Regions from separate parts of the Homo sapiens genome. Here regions 1 and 3 are each reported to be linked to region 2. The links are microRNA targets in miRTarBase. Many come from high-throughput screens and were not tested one by one. Region 2 holds a microRNA gene; each other region holds the end of a gene's coding sequence.
Evidence for each region. Region 2 holds the annotated microRNA hsa-miR-6811-3p (AGCCUGUGCUUGUCCCUGCAG, at 2,350-2,370, opposite strand). A microRNA usually pairs through its seed, bases 2 to 8, with sites in the 3' UTR of a target mRNA and lowers its output. Matches are read on the target gene's strand: a 7mer-m8 pairs with bases 2 to 8, a 7mer-A1 pairs with bases 2 to 7 and ends in A, and an 8mer does both.

Region 1: the mRNA of ANKRD42 is a reported target of hsa-miR-6811-3p. The part of its 3' UTR that is shown has no 7-base or 8-base seed match.
Region 3: the mRNA of HNRNPF is a reported target of hsa-miR-6811-3p. Seed matches in the 3' UTR shown: 8mer at 4,210-4,217.

The regions. Positions count from the first base shown.
Region 1 is chr11:83,247,494-83,252,555 of GRCh38, reverse strand. It overlaps ANKRD42 (ankyrin repeat domain 42), which reads right to left. Exons shown (of 11, transcript NM_001300975.2): 11 at 3,585-4,613. The coding sequence ends at 4,352. Among named protein-coding and RNA genes, the nearest start is that of CCDC90B-AS1, 36 kb to the left of the region's middle.
Region 2 is chr2:237,508,265-237,513,337 of GRCh38, reverse strand. It overlaps MIR6811 (microRNA 6811), which reads right to left and starts at 2,407; the gene lies at 2,350-2,407. It overlaps MLPH (melanophilin), which reads right to left. Exons shown (of 16, transcript NM_024101.7): 3 at 2,543-2,764; 4 at 2,237-2,349. RefSeq lists enhancers at 1-54, 55-555, 1,936-2,436, 2,437-2,937.
Region 3 is chr10:43,382,384-43,387,445 of GRCh38, forward strand. It overlaps HNRNPF (heterogeneous nuclear ribonucleoprotein F), which reads right to left. Exons shown (of 4, transcript NM_001098204.2): 4 at 3,235-5,062. The coding sequence ends at 4,254. Among named protein-coding and RNA genes, the nearest start is that of FXYD4, 13 kb to the left of the region's middle. RefSeq lists enhancers at 2,227-2,376, 2,397-2,476, 2,527-2,606, 4,344-4,845, 4,846-5,062.

The DNA.
Region 1 (5,062 bases), not on the chromosome of region 2:
TTCATTCGTGGTGATGTGTAGAGTAGCAATTCACACATTTTCATTGCTATATAATATTCCATTGTATGAATATAGCAAAATGTATTGATTCTTACTGTTGAGGGAATTTTTAGATGATTCTAGTTTGAGAGATATATGTAATAATGCTGACAAGAACATTATATATTTTTGGTGTCCATCTGTGTACACAAAGAAACATGTACTAATTCCACTAGGAATTAATTTTCCAAAGTGGTAGCCAATTTACACTGCCACCACTGGTGTATAAAATCTCCAGTTGTTCCACATCCTCACCAGCATTTGGTAACGTCTGTTTCAATTTTTGCCATTCTGATGGGTATATATTGGTATCTTGTTTGGGTTTTAATTTACATTTCTGATAACCAGTGATTTTGAGCACAATTTCATGTTTATTGGCCACTTGGATATCTTCTTTTGTGAAATGCCTACACAAGTCTTGCCCAGTTTTTTTACTGGACTGTCTTTTTCACGTTGATTTATATATTCTAGATACAACTTCTTTTTCAGATAGGAGAGAAGAAAGAAAAGCAGAGAGAAAGAAAGGAAATATGTTTTTCTACACTTTGGCTTGCCTTTTCAAGTCTGTTCATATAATCTTTGATGAACTGAAGTCTTATTTTAATGAAGTCCAGTCTACACATTTTTTTCCTACCCCAAGGTCATGAAGATATCCTACGTTATATTTTATCATCTCAACTTCCAATTTAAGACATATCTTGAAATATATGTTTGAACTTATAGTGTAACATTTTAACAAAATTCTTACCAATTTTTAAGTTTTCATAAGTAAATTAACCCTAAAATTAATTTACTAAATTAATTTACTAAAATTAAAAAGCTATCATCAAAAGTTTTCAAAGAAAAATTTTCAAAATAAATGTTCTTAAAAGCACAGAAAGAGGGAATGTGAGGGGTTTATAATAGCAGTAACAAGTGGTGTTAAAAGCATAGACTTGGGGCTAGACAGGTTGAAATCATGGCTAGCCATCTAACAAGCTTTGTAACTTTATAAATTGTTTATTTTATCTGAGAGTTGATTTCTTCATTTATAAAATGAAGATGGTATCTGCTGAATATAAAGTCTTAACACTAAGCCCAACATACTCAAAACCTGTTGTTAATGATGACTAAGATGATGTTATTAACATAAGTTAAGTGATCTTATAAAACTTAGATTTTCAGTACTGCGGGTAAAGTAAGTGCCCAATCATGCTGTGATACAGATGACGAGAAGCCCTCAGACCAGTACAAGGTGCTTGATAGAAGGAGAGATCACGTGTGACCAGGGAGACTAGGAAAGGGGTGATAAATGAGATGGCTCCTAGGGGATTTTACAGAGTCAACAGGCAGTTTTCAAGGTATATGGACAAATTGAACAAAGGCTTAATGATGGGAAAGCATAGGGTAGCTTAAGAAAAAATAAGCTATTAATATATATATAGGAGAACAGACAAAAATAAAGTTGGTGAGGTAGGTTAAGGCTGAATGTCAAACTGAAGAATCAGTACTTATTCAGGTAAGGAAGATTTTCAATCCAAGGAGTGACAAGAAAATCAAGCTGACCACTGTGAGTCAAATGGATTTGGATAGGGAAGGAGTAAATACCAAAATTCTATCACAGTAGTTCAGATAGAAAGATATAGAAACCTAAACTAGGGAAGCAGTGAAAGTAGAGAACATGTTCCTACCTACAGGATGGACTCGCTTTTTGTATGATCTAAAGGAGAAAACATGGCTAATCATTAAGAGTCCAAGACTGGGTAGTTGAGAAAATAGTGATGCCATTAATTTAAATGCAGAGATAGGGGAGAGAATCTGGTCTTGATATTGAGCTTGGTTCTGGACATTTTTTTTTAATTCAAGCACCACCAGGAATTTCGGGTGGAAATGTCCAGTTGACGAGCAGTGGGAAATACAGGTGGGGATCCCTAGTGGGGACACAGTACTTAAGTATGGATTTGATAGTCATTTCCACAGAAGTATTAGAAAAATATAATGTGGAGACAGAGATTCTGAGTTTGCTCCTGCCTTACACTAGCTGTATGCTCTAACAAGACTCTCAACTTCTCTGAGCCTCTGCCCTCTCATTTATAACATGGGATCAAAAATATATATATCATTCTACCTCCTCATAGGGTTGATGCAGACTAAAATGAGATAATATCTGAGAAAGTGCTATAAAAACAGCTGTTATCAAAAAACCATTTAAGTGCTTTATATATGTCAAACTATCCTAGGAAACTATTCGAATAATTTTTTTTCTCAGTAAAAATTATACTATTGCAGATTATGTTGGGGGCCGAGGATCTTAAGGTACAGTAGTATGCAATCATAGGTCCTGACCAGAAGGTGGCAGGAGAAAGACTTAGTCAGAGCTTCTTGAGGATTCCGTATTTATAATCCTGAACGAAAAGTTCATTTTACTTATACATTACATATAATTAGACTCCCAGATAAATTCTTCCTATCCTTAGCTGCATGTGGCTCTACACATTTATTTATCCACTGACCATGTCAACTCATCTGTAATATAGAAAATGGAAAAAAAGAAAGGGAGTAAATAATACAATGACTACTACTATATAGTGAATACCTCTGCGTGCTAGAAACCAAATTCAGGATTTCTACACAATATTCCATTTAACATCAATACAATTCCATGAGGTAGGTATTATTATTCCTCATTTTAAAGATGAGGAAATTGAGATTCAAGCTTTTGCAAGTGAAAATAAGCAGTGCCAGAGTTGCAGCTGCCATGAAAGCTCAGTGACATTTGCTTATTTACAAAAATTAGGTATAACCTAAAGCAAGAATGCAAAAAAAAATGAACTCTGAGCACAGGGACCTTGAGACAGCTCTCCTGAAAGCCTACACATTGTTGGTAGAGTGAAGTTTTAGGGAAGCAAAACTGTGAAGTATGAAACCAGATCCAACCTGAGAACAGATGCTTCTGAGTAAGCAAAGAGAATTTCTAAATAGCTAAAAGACAGAAACATTCCTAAAGTAGACAGTTTGGAATGGCTCAAAAGAAAATGTGCAGCTTGCGTGACCACCCCAAAAGATTGTCCCACCTAGGCAGCTGAAGAACAACAACTTAGCCTTGGCAACAAAGCAAGATCCCGTCCTTACAAAACAAACAAACAAACAAACAAAAAAACTAATTGGCCAGGTGTGTTGGTGCATGCCTACAGTCCCAGCTACTTGGGAGGCTGAGGCAAGAGGATCACTTGAACCTAGGGAGTTCGAGGCTACAGTGCCCTATGATGGCACCACTGCATTGAAGTATGGGTGACAAGAGCAACACCCTGTCCAAAAAAAGAAAAAACGAAGAACAACAACTTACAACTTACCTTTCTACTTTTGAGGAGACTGGGAGTCACAGAGTCCCTGCCACAAGGTGGAGGGGTAACAGATTTGATTGGAAGCAGTGAGTTATAAATGGTGCTGTGTCCTCTAGCCCTCTAACCAACACATGACTGTACAGCTGGCCTCTCTGATACTAAATTTTCCCCATGTGCTAAAGATCGTACAAGAAGAGGGTTGCAAAATGAAGAGAATAGATTAATTATTATAGTTAATTATATTTCTTGGAAAATCAACCACTGGTGAGACACCAAAACCCAGAGAAACTGAGGAAGTGGTTATATTTGCATATGCATAGAAATACACATACATGTTTGCAGATAAATAGAATTTTGTCTAATATGGTATGTACTAAATTGTTAACAATAGCTTCCTCTGGAGAGTGGAACTTAGTGTCAGAAGGAACATCTATCTTGTTTTTAACACTATACAACAAACATGTTTTATTATTTTAATATTTTTAAAGTGGTTATTAAAGAGACCAATGACTAGTTTGTGCAAAATAAAAAGAAGCCAGGAAGATTCTATAATATTAATAGATCAGATTTGAGGTGACACAAGCCTCAAACAGAATTAATTCATCCATGATGATTGATGAAGAAACTTCCCTATGGAAAGAAAATATGGATTCCATTCAAAGCACTTTATTTTGGTTATTTAGAATATTAAAATATACATATCCTCTAGCTGTCTTAGAATTCTGATTGATTACTTATGAAAACATTTTCTCCTTCTATGGTACAATGTTAACAATAATACTTATGAACTAGGCTGCTGTTTGAAGATAGATAGACAGATGTGTGTATGTATCTAGAAAGTTATAGTTACATATAGAGTGTGTGTGTGTGTGTGTGTGTGTGTGTGTGTGTGTGTGTATTCCTTTAATCCTGTCATCAGCTCTAGAAAGTATAAGTTATCATCTCCAGTTTATAGTTGAGGCACAAAAAGGTTAAATGAGTAGCCCAAATCAAAAAAGACTATAGCCAGGATTCAAGTCCAAAGAGCCCCAGCCCAAAGCTTGTACTCTTGGCCACTCTTGTATATACTTCTTGAGAAAAATAAATGTATTAAAAAGGACACCAACCATAGCCACAAAGTTTGGGACTTGAATTTTTTCCAGTGTTTCCCTGAGTTGATCAACTTCTGCTCGATATTCATCAAGCTGACATTCTAATTTTTCTCTACGTAGTCGTTCATACTCCAGCTGGCCCTGCAGTTCTTTGATGGTCCTATCAAAAACAAAATTTTTTAAAAATCAATCATCAATGTCAACTAATAATTACTTTTAGTAGTGGAAAGCATTCATACATTGTATTTAAGGCAAATAAAACAAAGAAATCATTTATTCAACAAATATGTATTAAGGGTCTACTAAGAATGAGCACTGACCTAGGTATTGGGGATACAGTGGTGAACAAAAGGCCCAAAATCTGCCTTCCTGGACCTTACTTTAGTAATAGAGATATGCAGACAACAAGGAAAATAAATAAGTAAAATATATGGTATGTTGGAAGGTAATAAGTGCTAAAGGAGAAAACAAAAATAAAGCAGGAAAGAGTAGTATAAAATGTTGTGGAAGAGGGGCTTAACATTTCATACACAGTGGCTAGGGAAGGCTTTATTGAGAAGGGGGCTTCTAAGCCAAGCCCTGAAGGAAATAAGAGAGATAACCCTGTAG
Region 2 (5,073 bases):
TCCAGGGGTTTTCCCTTCCTTTCTTGGCCATCGGCCATCGAAGCTGCTTCCTGCAGAGCCTGCCGCGTCCTCTATGGAAGGCCTTGGTGAAACACCAGCACTCTGAAGGTTCACTCAATGAAGACCCCCAGAGGCCCACTTACTAGCTGGACAAGGTCTGCATTAGGCCCTGGCTGGGTCAGGTTTCAAAACATTAACCTTAAGCTTTTTTACCCTCCTTTTTTTTTTTTTTTTTAAAGGCACAGCTTTCCCAGTGTTTGTGTTCCTTGCTTGCGCCCTGTTTTAATGTTGTAGTTACAGGTGTCCAGCAGGGAGGAATGCAGCCCCTGTGGGCGCTTGGGGGAGCTGCTGGGAATCCAAGTTCAAGGAGCAGCTGTTTTCTGTTTTCTGTTGCCCCACAGCGCCACCTCCTGGCCCCTTGGTGGTGATGATTTTGAAGTCAGCAGGTTCTGGTGGGCCGTGTGAACTCCAGCAGCTCTGGGCTGAGCTGTGGAAACACTGCGTCCTTTGAAATAATACAGCTTCCTGAGCCCACCCCAGTCCCTAAAGACTGCCTCTGGGGTTGAGATTCTGAGATGCTTGACAGCATGGCTTTTCCCGGTGTTATGTGTCGTTTCTATCCTTAAGCCTGTTAGGGGTGGACTGGAGGCTGGACCAAGCTCCACTGGCTGCAGGAGGACCCTTCTGTGGGCTCCAGGCTGGCCGTGTGCGTGTGGGGAGGTGGGATTTGCTGCTAGGCTTCATGATCACTGTGAAGAAGCAGCCCCCAAGAATAGGGTGATAGGCCCTCCCCATGTCACCGGCCGTTCCTAGTCACATCTGTTGTTGCAGCATGTTATCAGTAGAGCCTCCTTTTACTCTTAAAAATGCCCTGGTTTGGATGATTGATCATACCTGCCCCCATCCCCACCCCACCACCCAAAAAGTGCAGCCACCCTGTGGTGTGCGGTGTACTGCTCCAGCGGTGCCTCTCCGTGGCCTCTGTCCTAAATTAAACGATGGGCTAAGATGCCTTGAAATGCCTGCAGCAGGCCCGGCGAGAGCTTGAATGCTCAAAGGTGTCTATGCCAACTTCTGCTTCTTCAATCAAACTTGAGGCTTTAAGAGACAGGCACGAATAAGGTGTCTCTCCAGAAGGAAGGCCTGGGGGAGACGCCTGGGCTGGGGCATGGTGAGGACGCCCCAATCCAGAAGCACAGCCTCTGCCCTGGACGTGCCCAGCTGCCGGAGCCAGGCGCTGCCTCGTGGCCCTGGAGAAACTCGCCTTGGTCTTGCAGATGGAGTCATCCAGGACACTGAGACCCCAGACACCTGGCTTGGTGGCGGCTGTCCCACCCGAATGCTTGGCCGGGCTTAGTGGCAGAAGCCTTGGACTCCAGGTAACAGGGACAAGGTGAGCTTTCTCAAAAACACTGATGGGTTAGCTCCCTTCAAACTCAAATGCAAAAGACCCCCCGGCATCCTCCCACCCTCTCCCTGAAAAGATCTCTTCCAAATGCCTTATGGGGGATCTTACAGGCGAACACATTGTTTAGTTTAAGCCTACTGCCTGGATTTCAAATTCATCATGAAATAAATACTTGGATTCAAAAGATGAAAACAACTGAATTACAACAGATTTCTCTAAATCTTGATAATCACCAGATTCATGTGAAATGTTTGTTGAAAAGAGAGAGCCTAGGCCCCAAACCAGATGTCCCAGGGAAGAAGGGCTTGGAAAACATGTAGTATTAACAAGCACCCTGGTGATTCAATCAGCAGCTGGGTTTCAGAAACTTGGCTTTGAGTTCTCAACTTACTTTGAAGATTTGAAAACAATATAATTTCAAATATTGGCAACTTCAGCAGCACCCAGGACTTCTGAGGTGCTCAGACCAGGCCAGTGGGATGCAGAGGTTTGCACCTCACATAAAAAGGAGCCAATTTCACAGGGCACAGTGGCTCACACTTATAACCCCAGCACTTCGGGAGGCTGAGGTGGGTGGATTGCTTGAGCCCAGGAGTTCGAGGCCAGTCTGGGAAACATGGTGAGATGCCTGTCTCTACAAAAATTAAAAAAAAAAAAAAAAAGCAGCCAGAAGCAGGAATTCACAGAGAGGCATGTGCATGCACACACATGTGCACACACACATGCACACACACACGTACACACACACATGCACACTCCAAAGGAACCTGCTTTAATATTCCTAAAATGCCTGGGAACAAAAAGCCGTTCTTACTCTCCACTCCTTACCTCCACCCTGCAGCCGCCCGTGGAGGGACCGGATGACCTTGGCACTTCCGAACCTCTTGAAGCGGGCTTTCACATGCTCATAGTACCACTCCAGTGAGCCGATCTTCACGACTCTGCAGGGACAAGCACAGGCTCATGGCACTGCCTGAGTGCTGTACACAGGCCTGCATAAATCTCACACACACACACACACACACACACGAGTGTGTGCATGTGTGCGTCCACCCTTCTTCAGCTAGCCCCATGGAAGGGACACGCCAGATCCAGAAACTATCAAGGTCATTTTACCTCAAGGCCTGGGCTCACCTGGCCAGATGGCAGGGGTCACAGATCCAGCCCTGCTCCTCCGGGTGGACGCGGCCACAGCTTTTGCAGGTGAAGAGGCCACATTCCAGGCACTGCCTTTTGCTATTCACAAGCAGCTGGTAGGGCTGCAGGCAGCGGGCGCAGTGGGTCTCGTTCAGATGGGCAGTGTCGGAAAGCAGCTCCCTCTTGGAGCTTTCCTTCTTAATCTTGCCCTTCAACGCCCTTGGGAAAATATCAGAAACAAGAAATATATTGGGCATCTTGTTTTTGCAACAGGCTTTAAGTGTGTACACGTACATACACACACACACAGACACAGACACATACACACACACAGTAACTGTCTCCTATGCAGAAAACAGTGACCCAACGTTGGGCAAAGCCACACAGGCATCTTTGTTTTGAGGGCTGAGCTCAAACGGGCAATTTTGGTGGCTGGAATGGAATGGAAACACGTTAATTTCATAGAAATGATATTGCATTTAAGCATTTCTGTGGCTGTTTACAATTGTACCAATTTTGGTTGGCAGGTCACTGCGCCCTCCCCAGGGCAGTCACAGAATCCTGGGGGCAAAGCCAGATGGTGTTTCCTGATCAAGCATTGTTTTGGTCTCCTTCAGCAGGGGGGCAAGAGTTGAGCTAACGCCCCAGGTTTGCTCCTCTAGAGCGCAGCTGAAATGGCTCGGTGAGTTTCCAGAGCAGGAATCATCTAGCACCCGGAAGTCTACAGTTCTCCTAGACCATCCGAGTTTAAATAACACAGCTTCCTGGTGAACCTGCCAAGTTGAACTGATTGGAAAGTGTATCCTTAGATGATAATGAACACATTTCTTTTGTTCTAGATTTCAGAGAATGTCTGCCAAACGTAATATTTTCAGTTTCAGATGAGATAAAATTAATCCATTCTTAGTGACAAAAACAAGAAGGACACTAGGTGCCATTGTCTTCTGAGAACTCTGAAGCACACTGATTTGGAGGCGGACACCCAGAGTGCAGCAAAGGTGAAGAGAGTGGAGGAGTCCCACCAGGCAGGGGGAGGCCACCTCCGGTTTCAAGTGCAATTGGCTGAACTTCACGATTTTCCTCTCTCCACTATTTACAAAAATGTTCACTGAGATGGACACGAAATCAGGCTCTTGTCATAGCTTCAAAAACCAAGAGAAAAAGGGTCAAGCAGTTGTAGGAATCTAGGGGGATACCGCCATCCACAGACTACAGTTTAGATAAAGCTGCATTGACAAGGTAAAGTCTTTGTCCCAAACAGAGGAGCACAAGTCCCTGGAGCCAGATGGGAAGGGCCTCACTCCCTCCATTTCCACCCTTGCCAGCTCTGCACCAACCAGAAAACCTGGAGGCCACCCCTTCGCTGGACAGGGCTTGTTAGCCTCTGTCCCAGGGAGAACCTCTTCTTCTGTATCCAGGCAGAACGGTACCCTGAGGGCCAGCACAGCAGGAAGAAAGACAAGGACATGTGTACTGCCCTGCATTCCAGGCTGGAGGAGTCCTCTTAAATAAGAGCCCAGAAGTGTCCTGGGGCAGCAGCTGGAGGCTGATATATTTCAGAGGCTGAAATTAGGGGAAAGGAGAACTGTACTGTGCTTTAGATTCTTTAAAACATAACTTCCCTTCTTCATAGCCAGAGACCAGGAAGGGAGGGCAGAGAAGACTCCATTTGGGGAGACCAAATGACATCTGCCAGCCACTCCAGGACGTATCAACAAGACCCGGAGCTTCCGATCCTGAGGAGTGAATGGGGCCAGAGCACTCCATGCACTCTGCTAATTGGGTTGACCAGAAGTCACTCCTCAACAGGCAAGAGCCCGGCACGTGGCTCCAATTTAAAGTTAGCTTCAGGAATAAAAGACCCTCCTGAATGTGACTTACCATCAGAAACAGACTCGAAACAAGTCAGCTTGGTGTGCTGAATGGGGCATAAGCAAGTACGTGCAGTCTCAATGAGAGGGACAGAGGAGACACAGGAGGAAACCAGGCTGAGATGGGAGCACCACCGGCTATGCTGGTGGAGGTGGAGAAGAACTGGTTAAGACAGAGATGGCGAGAAATCACAGCTCACAATGGAGGGGGAAATGGGCACAATTTCTACCGTGGAATATTAGATCCAATGATTTCGAAGAGTGGTCTTCAAAGTGTGGTCCAGGGACCTCTCTTCTGGAGGTTCCTAAGATCCTTTAGGGGGGTGAGTCACAAGGCCAAAGCTATTTTTGTAATAATGCTGAGACATCATTTGCCTTTTCTTTGCTCTTTGATGCCTGCACTGAAGGTGTAAAAACAATGGTGGATAAACTGCTGAGGCTTTAGCACGAGTCAGGGCAGTGGGCCCAACTGCTCTGACAGTCATTAGATCCTTCATTGAAAAAGAAATGAGCTGGGTGCAGTGGCTCACACCTGTAATCCCATCACTTTGGGAGGCTGAGGAAGGTGGATCACCTGAGGTAAGGAGTTCAAGACCAGCCTGGCCAACATGGTGAAACCCCGTCTCTACTAAAAATACAAAAATTAGCCAGGCACAG
Region 3 (5,062 bases), not on the chromosome of region 2:
GGCAACAGAACGAGACTCCGTCTCAAAAAAAAAAAAAGAAAGAAAAAGAAAAGAAAGGTAACTAGCCCTCTCCTGCAGAAAACGTGGCCTTGATTCAGAACACTCAGAGTTTCAGGGTTTGGCCTGAGTGTTTACTGAGACTTATCAGAGGTGCCACATGAAATCATTTAGGAACACAGGTACCTCTTTGATGGGGCCTATGCTGTCATTTGTAGCAGATGGCAGAGGAGCTGGTGGAGTCCTTGCATCCTTCTGGTCACCTGATAATTAGCAGGAGTAGTATTTCCTTTTTTTTTTTGAGACAGGGTCTCACTGTCATCCAGGCTGAGGTGCAGTGGTGCAATCTTGGCTCACTGCAACCTCCGCCACCTGGGCTCAAGCGATCCTCCCACCTCAGCCTCCCAAGTAGCTGGCCTACAGGTGTGAGCCACCATGCCCGAGTAATTTTTGTATTTTTTGTAGAGTCGAGTGTCTTGCCATGTTGCCCAAGCTGCTCAAACTCCTCAGCTTGGCCGGGCACACTGGCTCACACCTGTAATCCCAGCACTTTGGGAGGCCGAGGTGGGTGGATCACCTGAGGTCCAGAGTTCAAGACCACCCTGGCCAACATGGTAAAACCCCATCTCTACTAAAAATACAAAAATTATCTGGGCGTGGTGACACCCACCTGTAATCCCAGCTACTCAGGAAGCTGAGGCAGAATCGCTTGAACTGGGGAGGTGGAGGTTGCAATGAGCCGAGATCGCACCACCGCACTCTAGCCTGGGTGAGTGAGACTCCGTCTTTAAAAAAAAACAAAAAAAAACAACTCCTCAGCTCAAGCAGTCCACCTGCCTCAGCCTCCCAAAGTGCTGGCATTACAGGTGTGAGCCACTGCGCCAGGCCTCAGGGTATTTTCAAGGGTCAAAGCAGCTTTCTCCAAAATCCAAAAACTACTACCCAAAATTATGCCTCTTTCAACACCCGGCATTTTTAGTGACTCAAGGGATGAAAATTCTTATCAGGCCCTTACTTGCTTACACATTAACCACTCGCTTTTTGCCCAGTATTCCTTGTTCCCATAATGAAATTATGAACTGCTGAAATACTGTTCCTTGTGAAGGAGGGGATAACTTCAGGGCCATAAAAAAATTTTGCAGAAGTAATGAATGTCTTTAAACACACTGCGACCAGCTGCAGACACCCAGAAGTCTGGTTATTCAAGACACTATGTGAGACTAAAGAAACACAGACTTTTCCCCCCTCGGTTCTCTGAAACTGCCCCTCCCTTAGTCTCTAGCTGTGTAAAAACTCCCCATGCCTGGCATGGTGGCTTATGCCTATAATCCCAGCACTTTGGAAGGCCGAGGCTGTAGTGTACTATGTCGATTGGGTATCTGCAGCAAGTTCGGCCTCGCTATGACCTCCCAGGAGTGGAGGACCACCACGTTGCCTAAGGAGGGGTGAACTGGCCCAGGTTGAAAACGGAGGTCAAAACTTCCATGCTGAGGCTGTGCGCGGTGGCTCACGCTTATAACCCCAGCACTTTGAGACTCTCTCAAAGTCACTGCACTCCAGCCTGGGTGATATAGGGAGACCCCCATCTCTAAAAAAACAAAACAAACAAAAAAACTCCACGCTGCTTCTTTTTGTTAAGGCAGATTTCTCACCTTGGCCAAATCAAATAAACCTTTATCTCCAAGCACCTTTGTCTTGGTGTTTGGCATCAGCTACACATCAGGTACGCAAGCCTGAATTTGGGGTTCTACAACATAACAAGATGCAGTATCTTGACTTTTACCTTGCAGGGAATGCCCTAGTCATGCCCAAGGCCACAGGTTGAAAAACATTTCCTGTAGTGTCAGTAAATATTTTAGGTTTTGTGGGCCATGTGGTCTCTGATACAACTACCCATCTCTCTGCCTGCTGTAGTACCTGGGCAGCCATGGACAGTATTAACAAATGGGCACGGCTGTGTGTAGCAACAAATGGGCATGGCTGGGTGCCATGGTGCATGCCTGAAATCTTAGAACTTTGGGAGGCTGAAGAATACAGATCACTTGAGCTGAGGAGTTCAAGACCAGTCTGGGCAACATAGTGAGACCCCATCTCTACAAAAAATACAGAAATCAGCCGGGCATAGCGGTGTGCGCCTCCAGTCCCAGCTACTTGAGAGGCTGAGGTGGGAGGATAACTTGAGCACGGGAGGCTGACACTGCAGTGAGCCAATATCATGCCACTAGACTCCAGCCTGGGCATCAGAGAGAGACTTGTCCCTCCCCAACAAAAGTTAACAATCCTGGAGCAAGGGGATGTTTTGCTGTCCATGTTATGTTGTTACCTTGGGATGTCAGGTCATCTAACACATTCCCTTTCCCATCCCCTGGAGCCCTTTCCACCCATGCATCCTAAATCTAGCATAGACTTCCAGGGTTGTGAAGGTACTCTTTGAATCTCCACCACTCTACGAAATCTGAGGTCTCATCTTCATGGCATTCCAGCCCCATTTCCAGCGGAAACTCCACCTGTTTCTGTGGGTCTCCCTCACCTACAGGCCTCTCCTTCCCCATGCAGTGCTGACACTTGAAGCATGGTAGGCCCATGGGTGGGCAGAGATCCCAGATCAGGGTTACAGCAAGGACAGTTCTCCCTAGGTTTCCCCCATGCCAGTCTTCCGAGTGCCTCTTTCTGCGTCCCTGTACCCTGCCATTCCTGGTGATGCTGCTGCCCTCACATCAGGCCATCCAAGCATGCAGAACATAAGCATGCAGAACACTGGAACGAAGGGCTGTACCTAAGGTGAGCCTCTGAAGCCCAATGAGGCTAGAAAAGGCTGAAGACTTCACAGACCTAATTTTTAATGCAGCTCTCAGGGGTTTTACCAAGAGCATTTATTTACTCTTTAAGATACTAATGAAGACCCTTAATATTGGTAAAATCATAACATATAGGTTACATTATACAGCTAGTGAAGTGGGAAAATAAAGTTGAAGAATTCCCAATGGTAGATAGCATTTTTGCACAGAATGGTTTTAAATAAACTCCACATTTTAAAGTCCTGATGGTTTGTATTTAGCATAAGGTTTAAAATGATAGTAATACTGTATGCTATATATAGAGCTGCCTGAATTTCAACATTGCTGTTGCCAAGGTAGATAGCAATTTGAAAATGGGTCTCAAGCTTGATAATGTGTATCCTGTCATAACCTAATTAACAAATGCGCCCTACAGAAATCAGGAGCGTGACCAAAAAAAAAAGTTTAAATCAGCATTTTATAAAAACTAGAAACAAAATAATTGCTTTCACAATGTAGTACTTGAAACTAAAGTTCTCCAGCTATCAACAGATGTGACTCCAGCATCAAGGGCCTAGCAGGAAAATTCTGAATGGTTTACAACAGTGCACATAAGTTGCAGGTGGCTGGGGCCGTGTGTCTATTTGATGCTTCCCAGAATGTGTGCTGCTAGTCACCATTTCCACCATTCACATATTTAACATTTTTATTAGACTTTTATTTAGCCTCATCATAAGAATATAAGGGAGATCATAGATTTGATGTATGAAATTTTTAAATTCACACTAAAATACATTACGATTAAAATGAATTATCTTCAACCACCCGTTTTGCTATCTTTTGCTGAGTAATCTGTGCCAGTCATTGTGAAAAAGTCTTTATTTTAAGAAAAAAATTTAGTTAACAAAAAATTTAACAAGTTTCACTTAGCAAAATACACCCAAAAGGAAATCACAGTACAAAGAAAGTTTTAAGTCAAGGCCTCACCAATTCCTACAGTATTAGTATTGTGTCTCAATTCTCAAAACTAACTTTTAAAAAGCTTAAACTTAACCTAAAGGATTTTAAATGAAAATATAAACTAGAATGAACAAACATGAGAAATATTTCTTTGAATCAGGGAGCTAGCACCTTTGAGTTTTCCAAAAAAGCACGTCTCCCCAGTGTGTTCACTGTGATGTGGTGTAAAAGATCCACATTTAACATACTTAAACTACTTAAACTTAGATAACATCACTCTGAAGTATACTACCAAAATGTTAATTGAGAAAAGCTGAAAATAGTTTTAGTTTACTCATTATCACATGCTAGAAGAAAATTTTGCATGAGAAAACACTGAAGAGGTAATTTTTTAATCCAGATTTTTCACAAACTCATGGTGCAAAATGGGTCCCCCAGCTTCCTCTATTATAACTGCTCTTAATTGCTTGTTGGCTGCCTGTGAAAATGATTGAAGTAACTCAAATGTTCCTAACAAAACTAGTCATAGCCACCCATGCTGTTCTGCCCACTGTAGCCGGCCCCGTAACAGCCACTCACTGACTGGCTCTCCAGGCCACTGTAAGTGGCCTGGGCAGCAGACACCCCCATGCCTTGCATCACCTGGCTGCTATACGCCCCATTGCTGGCCCCTGTTGTTGAATTCAAGAAGAGTTCTATATATCTGTGCTGCATATTGGCCCTGTCTTTGGACATAGCTGCCACAGCTTCTTCATGAGTAGCAAACTCAACATCTGCTTCACCCGTCACTCTTCCATCTGGGCCAATCTCAATATGGACTCTCACAGGGTTGAGAGGAGAGAAGAAGTTGTAAATGTCGTTCTCGGTCGCTTTGTACGGCAGGCCCCTCATGTGGACACAGTGGCCTGTGGTGCTCTGCACTGTGAACTCACTGTCGCCGTATCTGTGGTCATACATTCCGGAGAGACAGTAGCTGAGGTCTCTCCCGAACAGGTCGGTGGTGAAGCCGTAGCCATCACTGAGGCCACTGTACTCCTCGTAGCCCCCGTAGCCTGTGCTGTAGGCACCAGGCCTCATCCTTTCCAGGCCTGCCTGCTTCACGATGCCAATGTACCTCCTGGCAGTCCCGGGCCGGTCATAGGGCCCTGGCCGCTGCACGGACATGAACTTCAGAGGGGGATCTGAGTATGACCTAACTTCCTCCTGGCTGCTCTTAAACACCTCAATGTACCTGTGCCCTATCCTCTCCTTGTGTTTCCCTAGAGCCTTCTCAGCTAACTCCTGCGAGGCAAACTGCACGAACGCTTCCCCTGTAATCTTGCCTTCGG